Linked DNA regions of Homo sapiens: region 2 is linked to region 1. Evidence: fine-mapped expression QTL. A gene starts in region 1. The other region holds a variant in brackets. All regions are shown on one strand. Distances are between the middles of the regions. Region 1 holds the start of LNCBRM (lncRNA SMARCA2 (BRM) associated). Region 2 holds the start of LOC124901182 (a long non-coding RNA gene).

What was found. PIP is the estimated chance that this variant, and not a neighbour inherited with it, causes the effect.
Region 2: its variant is fine-mapped to the expression of LNCBRM in subcutaneous fat (TwinsUK, PIP 0.95).

What each region holds. Positions count from the first base shown.
Region 1 is chr5:57,563,817-57,576,504 of GRCh38, forward strand. It overlaps LNCBRM (lncRNA SMARCA2 (BRM) associated), which reads left to right and starts at 6,526. Exons shown (of 6, transcript NR_120607.1): 1 at 6,526-6,566; 2 at 10,215-10,284.
Region 2 is chr5:57,614,979-57,627,666 of GRCh38, forward strand. It overlaps LNCBRM (lncRNA SMARCA2 (BRM) associated), which reads left to right. Exons shown (of 6, transcript NR_120607.1): 6 at 1,747-2,452. It overlaps LOC124901182 (a long non-coding RNA gene), which reads right to left and starts at 7,670. Exons shown (of 2, transcript XR_007059133.1): 1 at 7,591-7,670. The variant A/G (reference allele first, on the strand shown) is at 6,423.

The DNA of each region.
Region 1 (12,688 bases):
CTTCTGGGTGATGGGGTACATAATAAGACCAGTGGATCTTGGTGGCACAAGCCCATTTCCTACCTTGCATATTTCATCTCTCACAAGAGTTCATCACATTGGCTGAATCTAACTGTATCCAGAAACTTGCTGGCAAGGAAGTCTAAGAAATGTAGATTTCCAGCCTACAATGTGATATTGAGGAAAGCATAGAAAGGAGTGGGATGAATGCTGATTACAGTAGACAATGTTAGTATGCACAGCTTGCTCTGCTACATGATATAGGTCTCTGCACAGATATAACTTTTGTAAAAAGAACTTCCTTGGCCACATTATCCAGAATGTTACCTTTCTTCCTTCATCTCTCCTTACTTTGGTTTATTTCATAAAGCAAATACAGCTATGTAAAATAACGATGTTTAGTTAGATGCTTACTTGTTTATTGCCCGTTTCTCCCAACACTTGAGCTCCATGAGGGTAGGGCACATGGTCCTAGAACAATTCTGGAAATGGAGGAAATAAGCAGATATTTGTTAAGTGAATGAAAGAGACAATGATGAATGGTGGAACAACTAGTTAAAGAAAATACTACTAGCTAAAGAAAATGGTTGGGAAAAACAGCCCTCACCTCCTCCTCTTTTTCCTTCTCTCTCTTTTGTTCTTTTTTCCTCTTTTCTTCTCCATGCGATGCATGCTCATCTTTGCCTTCTGCTATGAGTGGAATCTTCTTGAGACTCTCACCAGAAGTAGGTGCTGACACCATACTTCTTGTACAGCTTGAAGACCTGTGAACCAAGTAAGCCTCTTTTCTTTATAAATTACCCAGTCTCACATATTCCTTTACAGCAACACAGACAGTCTAAGACAATGATAAACCTAGAATTTGATTCCAGATGATTTTAACATAGGAGAAAAAGGGAAGTGCAGAAGGGATTTTAAAATGTGCTAATATTCTTGTCTTTTTCTTTATGTGTGTATGTAATTGTGTGTGCGAAGATGGGATACAGATACTTATTAGCATTGGAGATTGATAGGCAAACGTATTTAAATCTATATGTTAAATTTTAATACTGAGAATCTTCTAGTTAAAGTTGGCAAATCAAACATAGTGAATCCACTCCATTTCAAATGTTTGTTATAATTACAGGAAAAAGATTTTTTAAGGCTATCATTCACAAAGTAAAGAGACTTGGAAAGGAGAAAACAGCAACAGTGTTCTGGGAGCTGGAAAGTGGAAGAATGAAGGGCTGCTGACCTAGCAAAACACCGAGAGCTGAATTTTAAATTGGCCTTGGGGAAAGTGAAGAAGCAAACCGATATATACTATGGAATCCCCACATCACAGGAATTGGCAGCATGAGGTGCCCGTGGAAGTGGGAGGTGGAGGTAGGGCCTAGCCCTGTGTGGTGGGTTGAAACCCTATTTATAAGTAGTAGGCTTTTAAATCCTAATCCAATCCATGTAGCTGCAGCTTGTCTCATCCCCTCCTGAAAGTGGCTGAAAATTTATTGTCTGAAGTATATAAACAGAGGGTCTGGACTGGGGCACACAGGCATATTTGAGGGTGGGGTACCACATTAAAGTAAGTGGTAAAGTGCAAGTCTACTGCCTGACTGTGAAGACCAGCAATCTTCACAGATTTCCCCATTTGCTGCCACAATTCCTAGCTAGAATTAAGCCCTCCTAGCATAGCACGAGCAGCCTAGAGAAGACCTAAAACAGATTGACACTGAGCCTTCCCCAGCAGGATGTACAACCAGAGTTCCCCTCACTGTGAAGCTCCATGCACAGAACACACACCCAGCTTTGGAGCCCCTCACTCTTAATTGTAAATGAATGATAAGAATCACTAGACATTTAAGGAAAGCCTCTAACATGAAAGCCAGAGACCAGGAAACAAACAAATAAACAAACTAAAAAAAGCAACTTGAAAAAAATAGAGACTATGCAGGAAAATGGAAACTTAAAAGAAACCAAACAGAACGCACTATTTTCATTAATGTCCTTGGAAAAAGAAGATATTTCATTTATGAAATAAAAGACAGGAAGCTATAAACGTAAGACATTTAAAAGACAAAAATAAAGTCTTTTGGAAATTAAAAATATGAAAACAAATTTCAAACACAGTAGAAGATTTAGAAGATAAAATTGAAAAAATTTCCTTGCAAGTACATAGCAAGAAGACCAAAGGATAGATTGAAGAGAAAATAAAAGAAATATAGAGAACTGAGTCAAGAGTTCAAGATATTTCAGAAAGTATGAATAAAGAAAGTAGAGAAGAGGATATTTTTAAATACTTCAAGAAAAATCTCCAAAGCTGAAGAACTGAGCTTTAAGATTAAGAGAATACATCAAATGCTCAACACAAATGGGTGAGAAAGTTCATAGCAGTGTGGTCAAAGCAAAGTCCTAAAAGCTGAGAGGGAAAGGCAGGAGGGGATGTTATGCTTTTATAAGTTTTCATATTTTTATAATCATGAGGAGAATAAATAAGATTTATATACCTTACCACATACAAATTAAAAATTTATATCCACAGTGAAACCATTCTTGAATGCCAAGCATAAGACGAGAAGAAAATAGTTGTAATATATACCACAAATAAAGGCTTTAATCTGTATTTTATGGAGAATATCTACAAGTCAATGGGAAAAAGGCATTCTAATAAGAAAATGGGAAAAGGCTAATGGAGAAAAACAAATGCTCTAAAAATAAATGAAAAGATGTTTAATCCTACTGGTAATCATAGAAATCTGAATTGAAATATGTAGAGTCTATTTTTTTTGCCTATCACATTGGAAAAACATTTAATTATTAGTAGTATCCATTGTGTCAGTGCAGGTTGGGAAGGGGTGTGAAGGAATGCATACTCTCATACACTAGGTAGGAAGGCAAATGGCTTTTAAAAAGGAATTTTGTAGTATTTATTAAAATAACAATGTGTAAACCCTTTGACTAATCAAATATCCTGAATATCTGTCCTACAGAATACTCCTGGATGAGCATTGAGAAATGTTTATAATTATGTTCAGTATAGATTGTTTACAATGATAAAACGTGAAGGAATCTAAGTGTCCACCAATAGGGGATGGGTTAACAATCATAGTTCATACCACAAAAGAGAACATACTCATGAAAAAGAGAGGGCCCAGTCTCTCTGTATTAACTTTCTACAAAACAGTACAAGGGAATTTCAGGCAGTACTAATAGATACTGAGGATCGCAGTGTTTTGCTGACGAGCATAGTTGCTATGGAAATTTAAGTAAACCAAAACTCCCTTGGGGAATGTATTAGTCTTAGCTGGCTTTCTTGAAGCAGTGAGTAGGTGGGAAGTAAGTGTTAGGCTAGGAAAGACTAGAAAAAGCAGGCATTTCAGGAGGGTAAAATAAGGCCATGGTTAGCGTGCAAAAAGCAGAAAAAGGGGAAACGAATCACTCATAGAGGATGGATGAGCGACCTTCTCACTGAGGGTGAAAGAGCATGGTAGAATCATGTCTTCAAAACAGAAGACAGTCTCTTGAAGAATGTTGCTGGCTTGCTGTTTTCTTTAGCTTAAGAGAATCAAGAGACTTAAGTAGAAGATTCTTTGGTGAATAGATGATTTGTACAGGAGAAAGGTCTTGATTGTGATTGTCTTCAAACCATGGAAGAAATCATGTGGAGGAGCTCTGTAATTTCCACCCCCCAAGATAAGTTAAAATAGGATAGTCTCTCCCTTACATAGTTCAGATCAGGTTTTGGAAACCTTAAAATGCAGTTTCCAAAGTTCTAACTTCTCACCTGCTGGCAGTAAGAGGGCAGCAAATCACATCCTGTATCCTGACTGTTCTCTGCAGGTGTGAGTGGGGAATTGGTGTGGCAGGGGGAAGTTTTGATGGTAAAACGAGCAAAGCTTTATCCCTTGCCCATCGATGCCCTGGAATGCAGTGAGGAGAGGACAGTGGTGATAAACCTGCTGTGCTGTGTATTTTGTTTGCTCCTCTAGATTCATTCCTCCCTTTTCAACCCTGCTTTCTTCTCTAGGAGGCTGACCTGTGTAGACTATATTAACTATATCAAGAACACCCTTGCCCTTGGACTTCTGGTTGGGTTAAGCCAATGGGGGCATCTGCAGGAGACTGGCAGAAGGACAGAGTGCAAGTCCCAGGTGTGACTCTTGGCTCCCTTCCAGCTAGGTCACCTCAGCCTGGCTGTGCCTCTTCAGTGTAGGTCCCTGCTTCTCACAAGGCATCCTGTCTCTGTACAAGAGCTTTTTCCTCTTGGCCATTTTACTATGTATTAGTATTTAGTATTTTTTTAAGTATTTTTTAGTATTTAGTATTTTTTTTTGGGGGGGAATCCTTTCTAAGTCATTTTTCATTTTATTTCTGCCATTTACTACATGTCTGACCTCGAACAAGCCTCTAAATTTTTCCGAACCTCAATTTCCTTATTTGTAAATAATAAAAAAAGGGTATCTATCTCATAGGGGTCTTGTGATAACTAAACGAGACAGTCTATGAAAGGGTTAGCATAGTGCTGGTGGTACTGGTATATACCATATGGCCTCTAAGTGCTTTTTGTCCTTACAGCTCTCTCTTGTCAGAATGATTCCAACTCTCCATTCCCTCCCCAATCATCACTCTAACAGTTTCAGAAGTGAATTCTGTCTTTTGTTAGTTTTCATTACCAGTTACTTCTAGTATTTATTATTACATTTTGATGTTTTGGAAAGCTTTTTGCCAGAAAGTGTCTTCTAATTTCACACTTCTAAATAATGCAGACAATGTAGACAGCCCTACTAAAAACCTGAAAGACATTGTCAGATTTGGGGGTCAGTTTTCAAACTCTCTACATTTTTAATGCTGGTGGGCAATATCAACAATGGTACAGGATGGGCAAGGCTACATTGCAGGGAGAAAACAGTTCACTACTATGCAGTGCCATCTGAATGCCACGCTTGGAGAAAGTACATTAGTATCTCATTGACACATTTAAATATCCTGGAAGGGAATACTGTATTTCTTTAGGGCAGAGATTGCCAATTGCCTTCCCAAATGCATTCTCTGCTTTCTCCTATGCCGGGCACTTTGCTACCTGGCAAAAGACTACCTTCTCTTAAATAATGAAGATTTGGCTACATGACTGAGTTTAGACAAAGAATTGCAATTTGGACATAGGTGTGCTGTGACTTCCAAAGTGTCTTTCAATGGAGAGAGCACATTATTTCTTTATTCCTTTCTTTTCTCAGTTTTTCAGCATGTAGACATGATGGCTGGTGCTCAAGGAGCCATCTTAAACCATGAGTTGGCAAACTAAGAATGGAGCAGGGCCACAGAGTGGAAGCCTGGGTCTCTGCCTGTGGATTCATCATCTCAGCCCTCAACTGCCAGCCTCAGGTTTCTACCATGTATTTAACTAACTGTTGTTATTCTCTCTCTCTTTTTTTTTTAAAATAATGCAGCCAGCCTAGTTCTAACTGATGCATTTAATCTGAGTTTTGGATATAGGAGGCAAGAGCTCAAGGATGTTTTCACTTTTCTTGGATCCCAATAAAGCACTTAGAGAGGTAGAATTACTATCCATTTCTGAAAGCAAGACATTCTTTTTCCAGTGATCCATGCTACTTTCATACTATTCTCTTTCTCACTGCTGCTCCCCACCCTCTCTCTTTCTTCTCTTCTTTTTATCAAAAGCTGAGGTTCAGGGCTCAATATTCAAAATCTGGTTCTTATTGGGATTTGGATTACAATTATTATTTGATGGAGTCTTTAATGTGTTTCCAAAGCCACTGCCTAATTGTAGAAATGAAGAGTCAAAAAATAATAGGATCCTCTGTAAGCAAGCATCCAATAAATTATTCAGAATTTTTAAAGGATGCTTTATCATCAGATGTTTATAGCTTTAAAGCCAGAAGAACAGAGGGAGAACACAAAAGAGGCCTTCAAGTCATCCTCTTTTTTGATGGTTAAATGTTACTACAAGTCTTGCTGTTGCTACCCTCACTGTCTGCTCTCCCTGGGATTTAATGGAGATGGCAATCTAATTATTACCAGAAGCCCACCCAGATAGTTAAATACAGTTCAATAATAGCTTTGTGAGGGAGGGAGCTGTGGCAACACAGAATGGGGAACAATTAGTCTTTTTCAGGCCAGAGAAAGACCAATATTATAACATAAATTCCTCAGCGATAACATTGCCATTTTCTCCAAGTCATCATAAAATAAACTAGAATTAGGAAAACAGGGAGATGTGTGGAATGCTGTCACACAAAAGGCCCACAGATGAGTGTGGATCAAGCTAATTTTCAATGCATAACCACATGATTTGAATACCAAATTAAGCAAAAATAAAACACAACCCCCACACCCAACCTCCCCAAACCTCACCTAAATAACCATTTCATAGATATTTGAGATGTAAAACTACTGAGATTTTCTTTTTTAAGAGCTCAAGGGAAGTGTCTATAGCTTGAAAAACAAATATTTATAAATTATAAAAGCATTGTCTCTGTTTGTGAATCTGTAAAATCTCTGCATCTTGACAATTAGGAGGCAGAAAATGTTATACATAAGCACTTCCTTGTGAGCTGGAAGGAAAATGACTGGTGAGATGCTTCCAAATTTGTTACTTTCGGTGTATGGGAAGGGAGGAGGTAAAAGCATTTTGAGAAAATTGGGAAGCTTGAAATTTTCAAGTAGTGTTTGATTTGTCAGTAGAGAATCTGCCCTGGTACCTTATCAATCTATGAAGATCACTTTTTTATGTTCTCAGCCTGATGGCATATGTCTCTTCATTCATCCTACACCATTATCCATTTTTCCTCCATCCGTTTTTGTAATTTCCTGTTAATGTGCCCCAACCAAAAGGTTGCAGAGTGGGCCGGGCGCGGTGGCTCACGCCTGTAATCCCAGCACTTTGGGAGGCTGAGGCGGGCGGATCACGAGGTCAGGAGATCGAGACCATCTTGGCTAACAAGGTGAAACCCCATCTCTACTAAAAATACAAAAATTGGCCGAGTGTGGTGGCGGGCGCCTGTAGTCCCAGTTACTCAGGAGGCTGAGACGGGAGAATGGCCTGAACCCGGGAGGCGGAGCTTGCAGTGAGCCGAGTTCGCGCCACTGCACTCCAGCCTGGGCGACAGAGGGAGACTCCGTCTCAAAAAAAAAAAAAGAAAAAAAAGAAAAAGGTTGCAGAGTGTAGTGGTTGAGAGATGGATACTGGAATTACCTTTCTGAGTTCAAAACCTGGCTTCCCTAGCAAGTGATCTTGGGCAAAGTACTTTCTGTATCAGTCTTTCTGCCTGTGAAATGGAGACAATGCAATTCATGTGTGGTTATGAGGATGAAATGAGTTATTGTTTTGTTCAGTGCCTAGAACAGTGTGTGGCAAACAGTAGGTGCCATATAAGTGTTTGTTAAATGTCTTAGAAAACAACTATTGTGAGCTTCGGAGCTATAAATTGCCTACTCAAAATGGATAAACGAATGGATGGTATTACCATGTCTCCAATTGAGGCAAAAGGAGCGTATGTGTGTGTATGCGGGGGGTGGGGATTTGGTGGCATCGGGAATTGTGAGGGATGAATGCCCAAGAACCTCTGTTTTGCATGCTCTTACCAGTATTTTGGTCGTGGAATCACTAGCACTGAGGCTCTCACAAAGGGTCCCCTGGACTTTGATGTCACTGTTGAGTCAGGAAGCACACAGAGGAGGGAGGAGGCAAAATCTTCCCTAAGCAGTTACAGAATGAATTGATGTGGGCAGACGTGGGTCTTGCTTTGCTGAGGCTGGGTGGTCAGAGCAGAAGTGTTAAAGACACAATGAGAGGCAGCTTCAAAAGCCGTGGCCTTGCCAACAAGTGCTGGTAAACAAACGTGGTTGCCAGACCGATGCAGTTGGCAGCATCCCACAGTGGGGTGGTCCCCGATATGCTGGCTGACCTGAAGCCAGGTCCTGACAGGTGGTGGGCAGACGCTGCCCAACTTTTCTGATCAGGACTAGAGAATACCCCCAGTGAAGGCTCTGTATGGAAGGACCAATCCTCCAGCAGTGGCTGCATGATAAATAGCATGTATTTGGAAAACAGAAGGAATATGGGCCCTCTGCTGTGGATTCTCTGACCTTCAATTTCCTCATGTGTAAATGAGAATTAATAATTTCCACTTCATAAGTTTGTCATAAGAAAAAAAGTGAGTATAAAAGTACTTTGTAACTAGAAGTATATATTACTGATATTGGTTATGATTGTGTAGATGATAGAACCAGTTTTGTGGTTTGTTTATAATGCAGAAATGACATGCTTTATATAGTAGAGATATTCCTGAAAAGGTATGCAAATATTTTCTCACTTACCAGATCCCAGGCCCTTTAAGAGAAAAGACCATGATGTATTAATTTCAGTAGTCTCCCTGTGTTCTTTTGTTCCAACACAATGCTTTTCTCTTAAAAGATATGGAACAAATACAGCATCTTGCTCCGCAAAGAAATTGTATAGGAAAGAATCATTGTCTCATCTTTAAAATCATGGAGATATTTTATTTAAATAGCTTCCTGCATTTTCTGGGAATATTATCTTTTTTAGAAAGCACCATATTTACACTATGTACTATAGGACTCCTCTAATAAGTTATCTAACTACTCAATCTTGATAAACCTAAGATGGATTCAAGTTCATATAAAATTAATGGTAAATTATTTTGAGTAGCTATTCACTCTGTAAATTAAAAAAATTTTCTATGATTTCTTTAATAAAATAAGATTAGAGAATAGAACAAGGCTCAGAAATTTTTATGACTTTAAGGAGAAACATCTGCTATATCTTGTGTTTCTTTTTAAAAATATGGAAGCAGAGTGAAGCTGTCATCTATGAAAGATAAATCACTGGAAAGAACTCCAAAGGTTTAGAACTATTTGGCAAAAAGATTTATGAAATCTAAAAGCTAGGAAGAAAGAACAGAATGAATCAATCAAACATCCTCTTTGTTGTATGGAGTGAAGCTTGTTTGGAGTTTTTTATGGGCTGGCTGTTATTTTTAATTAATTAACTAATAGTTAAACATGTTTTGAAATATGTCTACATTGTAGAATGGCTAAATCAAGATAATTAAAATATTCATTACGTTATATACTTAGTTATTTGTGGTGAGAACACTTAAAATCTACTCTCTATGCAATTTTCAAGCATATAATTCATGGTTATTAACTAAGTCACCATGATGTGCAATACATCTTCTGAACTTATTCCTTCTGTGTAACTGAAATTTCATATGGTTTGACCAACATCTCCCCAAACCTCCTTGACTCCCCCAGCCCTGGTAGCCACCATTCTACTCTCTGCTTCAGTGAGTTTGGCTTTCTAGATTCCACATATAAATAAGTGAGATGTGAACGAACTTCGAAGTACAAACGATGACATGAGTCCATCCTCATTTTGTGAGGAAGAGGAGTTTTAGAAGTAAAAATGTGCTGGGCCACTGACAGGAAAGTAGTAAATACACCACTGAGGTTGAGAAGATATGAAAAGGAAAGCTGAAGGTGTCTTTGGTGGGCTTCACCATTTTGTGAAATGGACACTGGATCTGGTCCATTTTCGCTCCATGTTCCAGCAGACAGAAGCAGGGCTGATGACTTTTATGTCTCAGCTACCAACACTGTGTTCTTTGATCTCCTTCAACCTTCGCAGAGCAAATCACTGCTTCAGAGGCTATCTGAACCTACACCTTGTGCCAGGGCACAGGTTGGTACAGTTATAAATTGCTTCTAATTGTCATGGTCCAGCTCTTTTTCCACTCCAATCTTTTCTAGAATGTTTTTTTACCAGTCAGTTACAAGTTTGTGCTGAGGATCTGAGTCCTTGCTCTTCCACATTGGTAAGTTTAAATCGCTATTGCCAAATAAGGGAAGAATATTGATTTTTAAGCTAGGTTGACTTTTGCATCATTTATGTTTATTTGTTTCCTTTGCATGGACTAAGTTAAAAGACTTAACTATGCATTTTGTATTTAGAAAACAGGTTTTTTTTTTTCACAAACTAATAACCCCTGATTAGCTCTGGTAATTATCCTAAAGTTTGGTCTCATTATAACCAGCATTTTGCCATGAGTTTGCCCTCTAGGAATTTGGAAAGATGTATGATGAATTCTGTTTTCAAATCACTCCAGCTTTGGTGTCTTACAATTCTTCAATTAAGAATAGAACAAATGTTTCTAATTAAGAATAAAATAGAATTATATATTTTCTTTTCTCTTGTACAGAAAAAAATTATGAGACTTTGGCCTTGAAAGTCTCATAGTGAGTGCCTGTCATGTTATAACAGGGCAAAAAGTAAGTATAATATTCAAACCTTACTAACCTGTAAATTGGGGGAGAAAAACCAATGTGAATTAGAAGAAAAGACTGAATCATAATATATTGTAAATAAATGAAATGATTTCACCTTTTAAAGTACATGGACTGAAGATTTATTTAATTATAGTGATGATGATGATGGTAATACAATTATAATGGCTAACACATATATAGTGTTTCCTATGTTCCAGGCACTGTTCTGGCAGCTTTACATTTATTAAGTTATTCGATCCTCACAACAACTCCATGAAGTAGATAATAATATCTCCATATTACAGATCAGAAAAATGGCGCACAGAGAGGGGAAGTAACTTGCTCAAGAGATTGAGTAATTTTGCACAGTGATGAGTGGTATTTAGTTACCTTACTTTTAATGAATTAATTCTAACTTTAAATGAGCATTTGAAATGCTTCACTTTGTTGGTGAAATGAAATAAATAGGCATTTTCAAGATCAAATCTAGCTTGGGGGGTTCAGTGAGTGAAAGTTTCTCAGGCTATGAGGCATTCCAAATGAATGAATATTTCCCAGTAAACAAATGCGGGAAACACCGTTCTTTTAAAACTCCAAACAAGTAAATTTGTAATGCTGAAATTTAGTGAGATTGATACATTGTTATTTACCATTCTGCTCCCATAAATTTCAGATATAAAGCAATGCCTGAGCATGGACTGTATAAATTATTTTTGGAACACTAGAAGAGGCACTAGTCATAAAAAAATTTAACATACAATTTTTAAATAATACATTGTTCAGACTTAGTTTGTTCTCTCTGTAATTCTATTTGGTAGCAGAAACCTTATTCTTAGTTTTCTACTTCACAGAATTATAGCAAATGCCAACTATTTCACTACATTTGACTCTTTTCTAGAAGAAACACAGAAGTACTGAAAGTATCAATATGTTACCACATATTCAGGGTCTGTGATTAGCCAAAATATAATAGAAGGAATTTAAGTATAGGGTCATAGGTGCCTTGAAACATAATTCAAGATAATTCCAAGCCCATTTATATCTAGTTCAAGTTTATATATAGAAAATTTAATATATTATGAATATGCCTTCAATTATTATATTCACAATTGTTTATTTGAGAACATGCAGAAAACTTGGTTAGTATGAGATTTCAGTGAAATTATATACTGTTGTATAACTGTGAATCATGACATGAACAAAAGCTACAACCCTCTGTACTCCTGATAGCTATTTTATAATCTCTTATGTTATACTTGTCAACTGAAGCCTAGGTAAGAGTTAGTGTGACCTTGTGCACGTACAATGGCCTTGGGCAGTTAACACAGCCCATCTCATCAGATGGTTGTGAGGTTCTAAGTATTTATTACATAGCAGGAATCATCGTTAATCAATTAATCACCACCCCATCATTTAATTTATGGATTAGGAACGAATATCATCCCCTCTTGATAAATGAGACAATAGAAGTCCAGAGAGTTTAGGTAATTTGGTAAGCAATTATTTGAGTCTGAATGCAGGCAGGCTCTGGGCTCCAGAGCTCATGTCCTTCATGGTTAAGATGATGAGGATCAAGTGGACCACAGATAAAAGCCTTTGAAAAGCACATTGTGTATTGTGCGTGAGTGTTAGTTAGACACGAGTCATATTAAAGATACTCGTGATAACAGTGAGAAGATTAACAGTGAACATTTTGAAGTTTCTTAAATTTGTTTTAAGACTTTCATTTTTTAATGATAATAAGTGCAGCTCTTAGCACTGCACATCAATAAGTAAAAGATGTACCAATTGCTGTGGGTTCCCCAGGAAACAGGCTGATATGATTTGGCTCTGTGTCCCCACCAAATTCTCGTGTTGAATTGTAACTCCTGGTGTTGGAGGAGGGGCCCGGTGCGAGGTGATTTAATCACGGGGGCGGACTTCCCCTTTGCTGTTACCGTGATAGTGTTCTCACGAGATCTGGTTGTTTTAAAGTACGTAGCACCTCCCCCTTCTCTCCGTTTTCCTCCTTCCTGCCATGTTGAATGTGTCAGCCTCTCCTTCACCTTCCACTCTGATTGTAAGTTTCCCCAGGCATCCTTCCTGTACAGCCTGTGGAACTGAGAGTCAATTGAACCTCTTTTCTTTATAAATTACCCAGGTAGTTCTTTATAGCAGTGTGAGAACAGACTAATACATAGGCTCTGAGAGGGAGAGGTTTATTGGAAGCTCTCTCAGGAGATACACCTGTGAAGAAGCGAGGACGACAGGACTAGGCAGAGCGAAGTGCTGATACACAAAGTGGTTGCACCTGAGGTCTTACCCAATTGTACTGGGAGCTGGGATGCCATTTCAGAGTTTCCCACCCCAACGTTTAGCCCAGGGGGACTTTATGTTACTACTTAGCCACTCATTAGTCATGGGCTGC
Region 2 (12,688 bases), 51 kb after region 1:
TGTATAAGAAGACACAATTCTCACCCTAGGTGAAGGTCTAACAGGGTAGATTCATATTTCAGGCTTCTAGTAATCACTTTGTTAATAAACGAACCATACCATTTCCAAACTTAGAGCAAGACACCCAAGATAGAACAGCTTCACAGACAACTCTAATCTCATTTATCATCCTTGCCATTTGCTGATGAGTCTAGAAATTTGTCAGACCTATTTTGTTATGCCTGGGAAGGCATGGTTTCTTTATCAACATCAAAATAATAGGAAGCCAGTCAAGAGGTTGTTCACCTTTCTCCAGGAAAAGAGAGTTTGGGAGGGAGATATTTTATAAGCATTTTAAAGAGACAAGGGCCTCTGACTATGTTTCTTAATTTGTCCCCAAATAACCTTGTCTACTATACAATCAAGTTTAGAAAACTTATTTAAGGTTTTGAGATTCAAAGAGAATTAAAGGAATGAAAGCTATCTGTTTCTGAAATCATTAGATCTTTAAGCAAACAATTGTATTCAATGGAAGGTAGAGATGCTCTTTCATTTAGATGGAAAATCAAATTATAAAGATCATTCACTACAGGAAGGCAGCTGCAATAAACATCCAACTGATTCAACTGCAGAGATGTAGGGTAGGTAGAAATCCTTCGAAAATTTGATTTCACTTCTTTCTTATGTTCCATGTAGTCTTTAGCTGTAAACACAACTGGACACATTTTTGTAATTGTTACATATCCTATAATAGTATAGAACTGGGACATAAATTGACTATTTGGCTATCTTCTTGATAGAATTGATTTAATAAATTTATAAGAAGCTCCAAATATATAACTCAATTCATTAAGTGTTACTTAGGAGAGAGTGATAAGAACTGTAAAAATAAGGAGAAATTTGAATTTAACTTGAAGGTGACCTTTATGATATTCTAGGATGGATAGTAAATTTGCCAAAGTAACATCTGAAGAAATTCAAAGTTATAATAATAAAAGCTATTTTTTTAGTCCAGATACTGTGTCTAGTATGCCATAGACATAATATTGTTTAGAAGAAAAGGAATCTACATTATGAAGTAGAATTAGTAGGTGAAGCCTGCTTAAGGCAGAGAAGCTTAGATTTGAGATTCGAAGGAACATTGTAGGGTAGATCTCAACAGGGATTTGAGAAGTAGCATTCTGGATTGGGCTATAGAATAAGCCAAGACCTGCAGGCAAGAAAGAACAGAAGATAAAATATATGTGTGGGAGAAAAGGGGCCCTGGCTGTAACAGAGTGGGAAGAAGGTAGGTACCTAAGATGAGTACAATTTGTCAGCCTAAGGATTTGCTGTTAAGTCTAATTCAAAATGATTTTACAGTATAAAATACCATCTTGTTAGTGACAGACCTTTTGTTTCTCCTTTCTTTTGCTATTTAACTGTTCATCATGAAAAATATATGAGAGAAAACAAAGAATTATAAAACAAAAGATTCTGCTTGTGGATATGTCAATCAGTAGAGAAAGAACAGATGACAACTCTAAAAATTATCCAGAAATTCATAGTTATTATTTTGGGAGCTCTTTTCTTAACAATCAACACAAAGGCTGCTGTTTTTTTTATTTTCCTTCATAGCATTGCTCAGTAGACTAGCATTCCCTCAGTCAGGTTGTCTGACTTTTCAGTCACATATTTTGTTTTGTTCTGCCTTATTTCTACCAGGCATTAAGCACTGTATTCAGGATGTTTATGTTTTTTTTTTCTGGTTATATTTTTTCTTTCCAGAGAAAAAAGAAAGAAGGAGAGCAAAATGACTTAAAGACATTTTCAAGAAAAAAAGAGGAGAGAAGTCACTGAAATGGAAAAATAAACATATTATATAACTATTTATTGCACTATGCAATAAAAACATCTTCAGCAACAGCCACACAAGTGCGGGTAGAGGGTCTGCTTTGAAGAGAGAAAAAAGGCTGCTGCAGAAAAAACAAACCTCAATTCATAATTGGAGCTTTTGTTCTTTCTGGATTGTTTTGTGAAGAACATGCTGCCAAAAAACATTTTTCTTCTGTAACCGCTTCTTTTGAAACTCCATTCTTTTTTATTTCAAGGATGTTTATTATCTACTCATTTCTTTTTATTTATTTTTGAATCATATACCCCAATGTCTAGATGACTGGGACCACTAGGTTTCATATTTCCCAGATGAGATTAGTTGTACAGTTCATTTTGCAGGTTTATTCAGAGCATTTCAATGGCATTTCACCTACAGTTCACCTATATTGAGTCCTAAGAAATTGAAGGTGTTTCTTGATAGTTCTCCTGCTCCATCTTCTTCCAGGGGATTGATTTGGCTTCTTATGTTTTTGTATTTGGTTGCTCATTAGAGATAAGCCTGATTATTTGGCATTGTGTATTTTCTCTGTTTTAAAAAGGGAAAATACAACATGTTATTAATTATTATGATATAATAAAAAATGGAGAGAAGGAAAAAGATTTTCATCCTGACACTTTGAGTCATTTTAAGAATTTTCAGCTTGCTTTGTCATTTGTTTCTTTAAACTCAAGAGATTTGGTTTCTGAATTTGAATAATCTTCAATACACTGCATGCTGATTCACAGGTCTCCAGTAAAACAACTTGAAAAACTCAAAAAAGGATCGAGTGGCATCATCTGTGAATATAATGTCCCAATCATCTACAAATTGCCTTTTAAAAAGAAAAGCCATTTCAAATGTATATGAGCATCATGTAACAAAAATATTAATATTTTAGCTCTGTGCTCATTTCAACTTATAGAAAACACCTCATTCCCCCCCCCAAATTATTACTTAGTTCTAAAGCTAGATATATAAAATTTTAGGATGAAACCAGATTGAACAAATTCTGCATCCTTGAAAATACATGAACACTGCAAATAATGATACAAATTCTTAGCATTACAATTTGTTTCTAGCTACTTAATAATGACCTGGATTGAAAATTAAAATAGTAGTATAGATAATCAAAATAGGGACAATGTAGTGCTTTTTCTCTAATCAGTTTAACTGAATAATGCATAGATTCAGTATCCAGAAGGAATATCATCAACAAAATTACAAAGTTACCAGGCTTCAGGGCACAATAGGACTTAATTGTTTCTGGATATGAAGCTCCTGATAGCATCATAAGAACTTTTAACTAGAATTTTGCTTATTGCAGTGGAAATTTAACTGTACTGTATAGGTATATATCACTAAAAATAAGATGAAAAAAAGACGAGATGGCATATACAGAATCGATAGCCCTCAGACATTTGAATGCAGGATGCAGCTGCTTTCTTGCAGAATATGTGGTGGTATGATTTATGGTCCCCCATTCCTAATAGTTTCTTCTATTAGCCTGTTATTGATAGTTGAAATGCAGTACATTAATTAAGATGGTTTTGAACACAGGTAATAGAAAGTCCAACTCAAATTATTTTAAATGTATTGTCCCATATAGAAAGTGCAGCAGTACGGATAGCCATTAATGTTGGTTGATTCACAGGTTAACTGTGTGATCAAGACCACGTTAACACCATCATTCTGTTCTGCTTTTCTGAGTCCACTTGGTTTTTGGCCTGTCTCATCAATGATGTAAGATGACTTTTTGGGGGGATGCTGGCCTTTGGAACCCAGCCACCTGGGGAAAACCCAGGCTGCGTGGAGAGGCTACATGTAGGTGTTCAAACCAACAGCTTCAGTAAGTTTTAGTTGATAGCCAGCATCAACCACCAGAGTGAATAAGCTTTCTACTAAGTCCAACTCCCAGCCTTGGAGTCTCCCAGTTGAGGTCTCAGATATTGTAGAGAAGAGGCAAGGCATCCCTCCTATGCTCTGCTGAATTCTTGACTCACAGACACTCTAAGAGATGATAAATAATTGCTCTTTTCAGCCCGCTGAGTTTTGGGCTGATTTGTTATACAGCAATAGATAACTATTGCTATTGCTATATGTTTCATTGTTCATGTGCAGTGTGTAGGGGGGAGAGAGGAAAAGAGAATGAAACTATGATAAACCATTCTCCACTATGAAATTACAGTCTTTCTGTTCTGTCTGATTGAGTCAACTTGGTCTTATGCCCACTCCTAGACCAGTAGCAGTTATCAGAGAAAGCTGTGCATTGGTTGGTTTGGAATATTTGAGGTCTCTCTCTTGAAGCTGCGAATGGAGCCAGCTTCCTTGGCATCACAAGCTGTTTAGGGGTTAGTTACATACTTGAACCAAATATAGTTAAAAAGGAGAAAGAGGAAATGAAAGGTGAGTTAGGCGAAAATGCCCACTACATGCAAATAGAAAAGGGTTTACAAATGTTAAAGTACCCTGACGATTTTGCTGCATTACTATATGATAAAAATTTAATTACAGAAAACTTTTAGTATTGAAGCATAAATCAATATTTATAGAGTAGCTTTTGTATAGAGGCACTGTAGCAATTTCAAGGAGTTGATGATTAGTTAAACATGAATCTTGCTCTCCAAGAGCTATATACTAGAGTTGAAAAACAAAAAAGTGAAAGCAAAATACAAATTAAGTTACAGGGTAGTTTAGAAAAGAGAGGACTCACTTCAACTTAAGGTCAATCAGGGGAGGCTTTTTGGAGAAGCTGGCCTTTGTCCTGAGAGAATGAGTCAAATTTGGAATTATGGAGAATGATAGAAAAGGGATTCTAAGCAGAAGGAAGAGCACATGCAGAAACGTGGAAACGGGAAATGTATAAAGTCTGAGAATAGCACAGACAAATTAGAAAATACAAGTGGGGCCTTATATTGACTTCTTATAGTGCTTTCATCATCAAAGAAGCTTGTATGGTATTAGTGCAGGAAAGGGGAAAAAAAGATCTAATGAACAAATAACCAAACAAGCTAACCAATCAAAAACAAAAAAAAAACAAAAAACAGAAGCACTCATAGAAACATTCCCATATATATGTGGAAACTTGGTATATAATGGAGGACATTACATTTCAGAGGAGAAAAGGACTATTCAATCAAGAGTGCTGAAACAGTTATCCAAAGTGATGGAAAAGGATACAATTAGGTCTCCATCTCATCTCACACACAAAAACAAATTTCAGGTGGTTTAAAGACCTAAGTGTGAAACACAAACTGTGAAACTTTAGAAGAAATATTGAAGCATCTCTGGATGATACCAGAACAGGGATAGATTTTTTAAAGATGTCACAACAAACTAAAAGAAAACACTAATAAATTTGACTATTTGTATAAACTTCTAAATGAGAGTAGACGTCACAAGTAAACAGACACTGCAAAGCCAAAATGCAAGCCTCAGATGGGAGAATACATGTGCAGAGCATATAACTAAGAGTTGGTTTTCAGAATGTGAAAAGAAACTTTAAAGTCATTGTAGAAAACATAGTCAACTCGAGTGAAAAATAAGAAAATCCCCAAGACGGGCAGTTCACAGAGGAATAAACTGAAATAGCCAATTAACATTTGAAGAGCGACCTCACTAGTAAACATAAAAGCAAATTAAAGCAATGAGATTTATTTTATACTGATGGAATTGGAAAAAACCCAAACATCTGATGACTCTATGTGTAGGTGAAAACTACGGCAAAGTGGAACTCTTACACATTGTGGACAGGAGTGTAATGATCAAGAACTACTGAGGAATGCAATTTGGCAATTGTCAGTAAAGTTCAAGATGTACACTCCACATCACATCTGGAAATTCCCCTCATATATATAGGTGTCTCTGAGCCTGGCTCAGACATGTCCACTAGAAGAGTTGAACGAGGATGTTCATTGCAATGCCATTCATAATAGTATGATTGGCCTCCATATCTATCCATAAACAAATACATACATTATGATTTAGTTATATAATAAAATGCAATAGAGCAATTTAAATGACTGTACTAGATCTACATGTGTTAAATTGGACAAATCTCAAAAATATACTATTGATTGAAAATATCAGTTGTGTGCTCACAATATATTAAGTTTTAAACTTGATACCTCAGCAATATTATATATTGCATATATGTTAGGTAAGGCACCAAAACAAGCATGGAATTATACACACTAACCCCAAGATGATGGTTACCTCTAGGACTGAAGGAAGGAGAGAGCGGAGTATGTATTTGTGTGTGTATAAAAAGTCTGAAGGAATTGTGACAAAATATTTATACCTAGTAAATCTGAACATTGGGCACACAGATCTGTTATATTTTCCATATATATTTTTCTATGTTTGAAATACTTTAAAGTGAAAACACATTAAAAAGAATAAAAAGGGAAGTATTTAGATATGCCTTTCCCCTGTCCAAATGGCTATAGATGTACTGAGAAATTCTTTCGGTATAGAACATTTAAAACTACAAAAAAAAAAGTTCAAAATATATATAGTTGAGACTGTAAGAAATGAATGAACTCGAACAGAGATAGTTGGCAAAACCTAAAACTGGCATTTCCCCTGGGCT[A/G]TCAGCCAGACTTTTATAACCTAGAGCTTGAGTTATAAAAGGCTACAAGGGTCATAGAAAGCCAATACTGGATCCACAAAAGGTGGAAACTTGTATAACAGACCCTTACACAAAGGTAGGTTTCCTCAGACAACATCACCACAAATGAATGGTCCAGATATAAACCTGCCCAATAGATGCAATGAGGATTTATGTCTGTCACAGAACTCTCTCAAGTTTAGAAAGAAGGGCAGGAGCCAGATCATTGAAGTCTGATGTGACAACTGACCAACAATATATTCATACAGATTTTCTGGGGGGAAAAAAAGCAAAAGGAAAAAGAAAAACAGATGGTATGGCACTCCCCTAGAGGGAAAGACTTGGGTAGAAGTAGGCATGAAGACACGTGAGTAGGGCAGGGTATGAGATTGAAAGGAGAGGAGAGAGCCAGGAAAGCATGCCACCTCCTTTCTCATGTTTCATATGGCCATCTCTCACTTGTACGGGCCAGGACAAGAGGCAGAAGTGATGTTCAACCGAAAGAGAATGAAAATAATGCCTTTGTTACTGATCCCCTTCTAATCCTGCCATAGATTCTTAACTTAATCTCTGCTTTTTTCTCCACCTTCCTAAAGCCTACACATCTTCGTAAAGTCTAGCTTAGACTCACTTTCCCCATGAAGACTTCTCAAACAACTCTTCTTTGAAAGCTATAGTCTGTATTAAAACTTGAGTATAGGTCATCTTATTTTACAACTTATCATTACTTGGTTTGTGTTTTTCTTGTTTTCCCATTTGGATTACAAGTTGTTTTGCAGTCATACATATCTTATGGAATACCTAACACAGTGTTAAACATTAACAAATTCTTATTAATTGCTAGAAGGATTATAGTTTCAATAATGAGTGGCAAATCTGAGGGGAGGATTTACCTGTAAAAAGTGTGGTCATTCCTGCTAGGAGTTCTACCCTTGAATCAGGCATTAACTGCTCTTTTTAACCTCAATTCTGTTAGTACTATAATGGTGAAATATTGAGTAATAATCATCTGTCATAAGTGTGTGTGTGTGTGCGCATACTAATTACTTGAAGCTTTTTTTTTTTCTTAAAGCTATATGTTGCTCACCACTATTTGATCTCAGGCTTAACAGTTGAGGTTTAGGGTTACAAAAATGGGATCTATCTATACCTGATTAAGCAGAATCAATATTAATTGAAGGATTTAAGGTGGCTTAAAGAATCGATGAGGAGTTTGGAGAATCCAAGCTGGACCTGAACCACAGAAGACAAAAACTTGAGATAGAATACTGTATGTTAGAATCTCTTTTGTTGACACCGCTGTTGCTGGGCTCTCTTCAGCTTACCTTTGGAGTCTATTGCCCATACTTGCTCCACAGCACTGGGCTCTCATCTCTGTGGAATTCACTGGAAGACAGGTCGTGCACCTTTGCGTCTCATTCTTAACACTAAAAATCTTCGGAGTATCTGTTTGGGTGGGCTGAAATCGCCCCTTTAAAGGGTTGGGGAGAGAGTGTTAGTTCCCCTTTGGCATCAGCAGTGGAAAGTGCCTGCCATCCATCTTGGAATTCTCTCTGAATATGAAGAGTGCTTAGATGCTGGGAAGACAAAATGAAATGAGGCTATTGCACAGGAAGAAAAAAGGGAAATTAAAATCAAATGCAAAATGACACTTCTAATCCATAAAATATATTAAGCATATTTATAGTGCCATGTTGTTTATAATATCAAATACATTGAAGGAAAGATATAGTTCTGTATGTTAATCAAGTTTGTAAATTTTGTAAAGGTACTGCTGATTTTGTCATTTCTGAGCAGCAATAATTTTGGCTGTAATTGTTACGTAGGATCCACACACAGTTCACCTTTCTATAAAGCAGCAGCGGGATGAGCTCTTTTAACTTGGGACATCTGAAGGCATCGAAAGGGTTAGTTGAGAATGACTTAACATGTCTTAAATGAGAATATATTAACATATACACATATGCATTACTCTTGAGAGAACTCAGGTATACAGATATAGCACTAACTGTGGTTTACAACAGCGTCTCTGTATAAAAATCTCAAATTTCTCCTTGTTAATAAACTCACGACTTGCTATTACCTGTGAGAGTTGCTTTTATTCTGCTTCTCATTGGTCTTTCCCCAGATTCCTCTGGTCTTCTTTTGTGTGTCCCACACTGCTGTTGACACACGCTTGTCCTGGGAAGTGACTTTGTTGTTTCGGGGCACTATTACTATTTCCAGAAATCTTGGAACCTGTTTCTACAAACTTCCTTGAAAAGTCTGTCTATGAGCAGTCTTTATTGTTGCTCCCCCAAATAGTGGAATAGTGGCTGTTTATTACACCTATTTTCTCTAGCTGATGCTGTTTATGTTCTGATTCTTTAATCAGCCTTCTGTGTCTGATGTGCTCTTACAGTGATGAAATAGGTTAAATTCCAATTTAATTGCTCAAAAGAATGACTCCTTAGTTGTGATCTTAGCTGAAAAAATATTTTGTGATTGGACACTTTATCCATATTTGGACTCCAACACCTCCTATGCACCACTGTGAAGCATCCTCCCTGGGAGTGGGCGTTCACAGTGGAGGCAGTGGGGGCAGAGGCCATGAGGACACTGAGCAGAAGGGCAGCACACCCAAAATTGACTTCGGAGAGGAGGAAACTGAACAACGTACCTCCTAATTTTTTACGTGCCTATTTTTTATGCTTGAAATTTTGGGGGATGAGGAATAATGGTTCTATAAAGCCTAGGCAACATATTATAGTCACAGAGATCTCAGTGGGGTTTTTCTTTCTTTCTTTTTTTAATTTCCGTAGGTTTTCGGGGAACAGGTCGTGTTTGGTTACATGAATGAGTTATTTAATGGTGATTTCTGAGATTTTGGTACACCCATCCCCTAAGCAGTATCCAGTGACAGTAATATTCTTTAACACTTAAGTGACTGGCTATCTCCAAACAGGGGACTTTTTTTTGCAACTAAGTTGTGTGTGACCTTGAGTAAGTCTTCCCATGCCTCTGAGTGTCAATTCTAGAATGTGCAAAATGAGGACACTCAAGGAACTCTGAAGTGTTTTACCATTATAATTATAAATTGAGTGAGTTGTACCTTCAGTGAAAGATATGGCATTGAAAGTTTATACTTGTTAAATGATCTATAAATCAAATACAATGATAACATAAGTTTGATGTTTTATTCCTTTATGCAGGTCAACTCTTAGTAAAGACAAAGCCAATGACATGGAGTAGATGTTAGCAAACCATGACCCCCCACCAGCCAAATAAGCCCTGCTGTCTGTTTTTGTCAACATTTTATTTGCATACAGTCAAACTTGCTCATTTATGTATTGTCTGTGGCTGCTTTTGTGCACAATGGCAGAGTTGAGTGATTGTGACAGAGATAGGGTTGCCGGATAGAATACAAGAAATCTAGTTAAATTTGAATTTCAGATAAACAAAAATATTGCATGGGACGTACACTAAAAAAAATTTGTTGCTTATTTGAAGTTCAAATGTAACTAGGTGTGTTGCATTTGTCTTTGCTAAATCTGTCAGTCCTAGACAGAGACGGTTTGGCCCACAAAGCCTAAAATATTTTTCACCTGGCTTTCTATAGCCAAAGTTTGCCAACTGCTGATATAGAGGACAGATTTCTGAGCTAGTAAGAAAGAAACTCCTGACTTTCAGACCTGGTTTTGTTACTAATTTGCTGTCTAACATTAGATTAGACCTTAGTTTATATATCTACAAGTGAGTCTAATAATACCAGCTTCTCAGGGTTGTTTGAGGATTGCTGACATTAAGGGTGAGAAGGCACTTAGAGAGGAGCACAAATGGAATGGAGATAGGGTTCATGTTAAAGTTCCAGAGGGCAAGGGTACATTTCCAAACATTGCACTATGGACCCTTAGGTTATACTCCTCCTCTTATTGAACCCTATTGTTTCTGGTCTCTGTATTCTTCCTGGATACAGAGCCAAAAGGACATAGTAGCATAAAGTATGGTGTAGCTAGAAGGAAGGGTGATAACCAGATACTCTTCACAAAAGCCAGTTGACTAGATGTTAGATGAAACTTCAAACACATCTTTTTATTTATTTGATATAGCTTTATGCTAGATAGTATTTTAGACTATGGATTAGGAATACGTGTAACTGTTTTTTTCCTGTCTTAAAGAAAATATCGTTATTTAGGAATCAGACATGGGAGTGATAGTTCTTATTCCTCATTTTGACAGCTCTAGCATTAGTGAGAGCAGAGGCTATATTTCAAAGGCATGGTGACCCTAATTTCATTTCTGCACAGAGGCAGAGCGAAACAATGTGACGAAGTGAAAAAAGGAAGGACATTAATGCTACTGTTATGCCACTTTAAGAGAATTATTCCAGTCCGCTCGGAATAATTAATCTGTTGTACAACATTTGATGAGGTGCTCACCAAATTACTGCTACATGCTGCATTAAAAATTTTGTCAGCTTTGTTCTGCTTTGGAATCCTGTGCTTATGAGAACTTTACCTTAGGCAGAGGTGAGTACTATCTTCTGTGCTCTTATAACACTTTAAATATAGTTTTATTATGGCCTAATAATTTATTGTTTATTTGCTTTCCCAGTGGGTGGTGATTATCTTGACATCAGAAGTTTCTATTCATCTTTATATCCTTAGCACATAACTTGGTGCTAGTAGACACCACATAGATGGTGATTGAATGAGCTGAGTAAATATGAAACCGATAGAATCACTTTTATACTCTAAAATGCTGTACTGCTTCACCTCAGCTTATGTTATCGAATTAATTTTTTTCAGTGGCTCAATCATTATTTGTTGTATATTTGGAATTATGATATGATTACTATTCTTCATAACTCTTATCTTTCTCTCTTTGGCAATCTGACCTGCCAACGTGGATTCCACTCTTCACTCAATGTAAATCTCGATTGGGTAACTCTAAACCCTCCCTCCTTTCCAAAGTCCAGTCCTGGATACCTCTACCTGGACATTCAGTCACACTAAATATTCCATATGCAAAGTCTACTAAAAATATCAGAGGAACTGGAAGACAGAAGACAGACAGCTAATTCTAGCTCTTCTACTAACTGGCTGGGTAAACTTGTCAAGTCATTTAACTTCTCTGCCTAACATAAGGCAGTAGTTGCAATAATAGTTTCCAAACTGTTTACAGCGCAGCTTTGTAGCATTCTGAAACAACAAAAGGCATCATAAGCATTTAATATTGGCTATGCATTACTTGTACTAAGTTGTGAAAATATAGAACTCAAAGGAGATTGGTGAAAAATGCATTGTAATTTTTCAAAGCATTTCTCTTAAGCAGTAAAATAGAGGCTTTTTTTCAGAAGACAATCTGTTAGAATTTTGCCACCACAGCTCCACTGCTGATGAAATAGAACCTGGGTATCACAGGAATGCTATGGAAGCCAATGTAAACCACACAGCCAACTCCTCTGGGAATGACTTATATTACTGCTTGGGCCAATTTTAAAGAAAATCCTGTGTCAGCACTTTCTGTGATGGTCACTGGGCCTTGCAGAGCTGCCTCATTTGGAACAGACTGCTTCAGGGTATATTAATGTCAGGACACACTGCTTCTCATTATAGCTCCCACCAATCCAGGTGCCAAGGCCAAGATATACTAGAACGTGAATACAGGGCCCACTTGGCAAGAAATACATGTTGTCAGAGCAGAGGTCTAAGACTACACTGTCTTTGGGTGAGAATGGGTGGTCTGACTTGAATGGGACTTGAATGGGACTTGGCATCACTACATGCAAAGTTATTAACTACCTGGAGCCATAAGTGGGAATATGATGTGTTTGATAACAAATATGTTAAAATGTACCATTTGTTTTTATGTATAATTTTTTAAGGTCCATTTCCTGATTTTTTTTTTCTTTAAATAAATGAAATGGAAAGCTTTTCACTCAAGGATAACTTCAACCTTTCTAAACATGATTCTTGTCCATTTCATATCTGGTCTTTATTATCAGGCCAATCACCCATGCATTATGAACCCATGAAATTATGAAGGCAGGTCATGAATATACTCTGATGTTCATGGACATTGGGTTTATAAAATCTCACTTATCTCCTCCTGCATGGTTACCACTATGATCTTAGCACAGCTCCACCCCAATTTCTTTGCTATTATGACTTAAATTTGAAAATGCCTCTGGCTTGAGTGTTGTCCTAGATATGTGGATCTGAGGCATCTATACAAGTGGGGTGCCCAGCTGGAAAGTGTAGCCATAT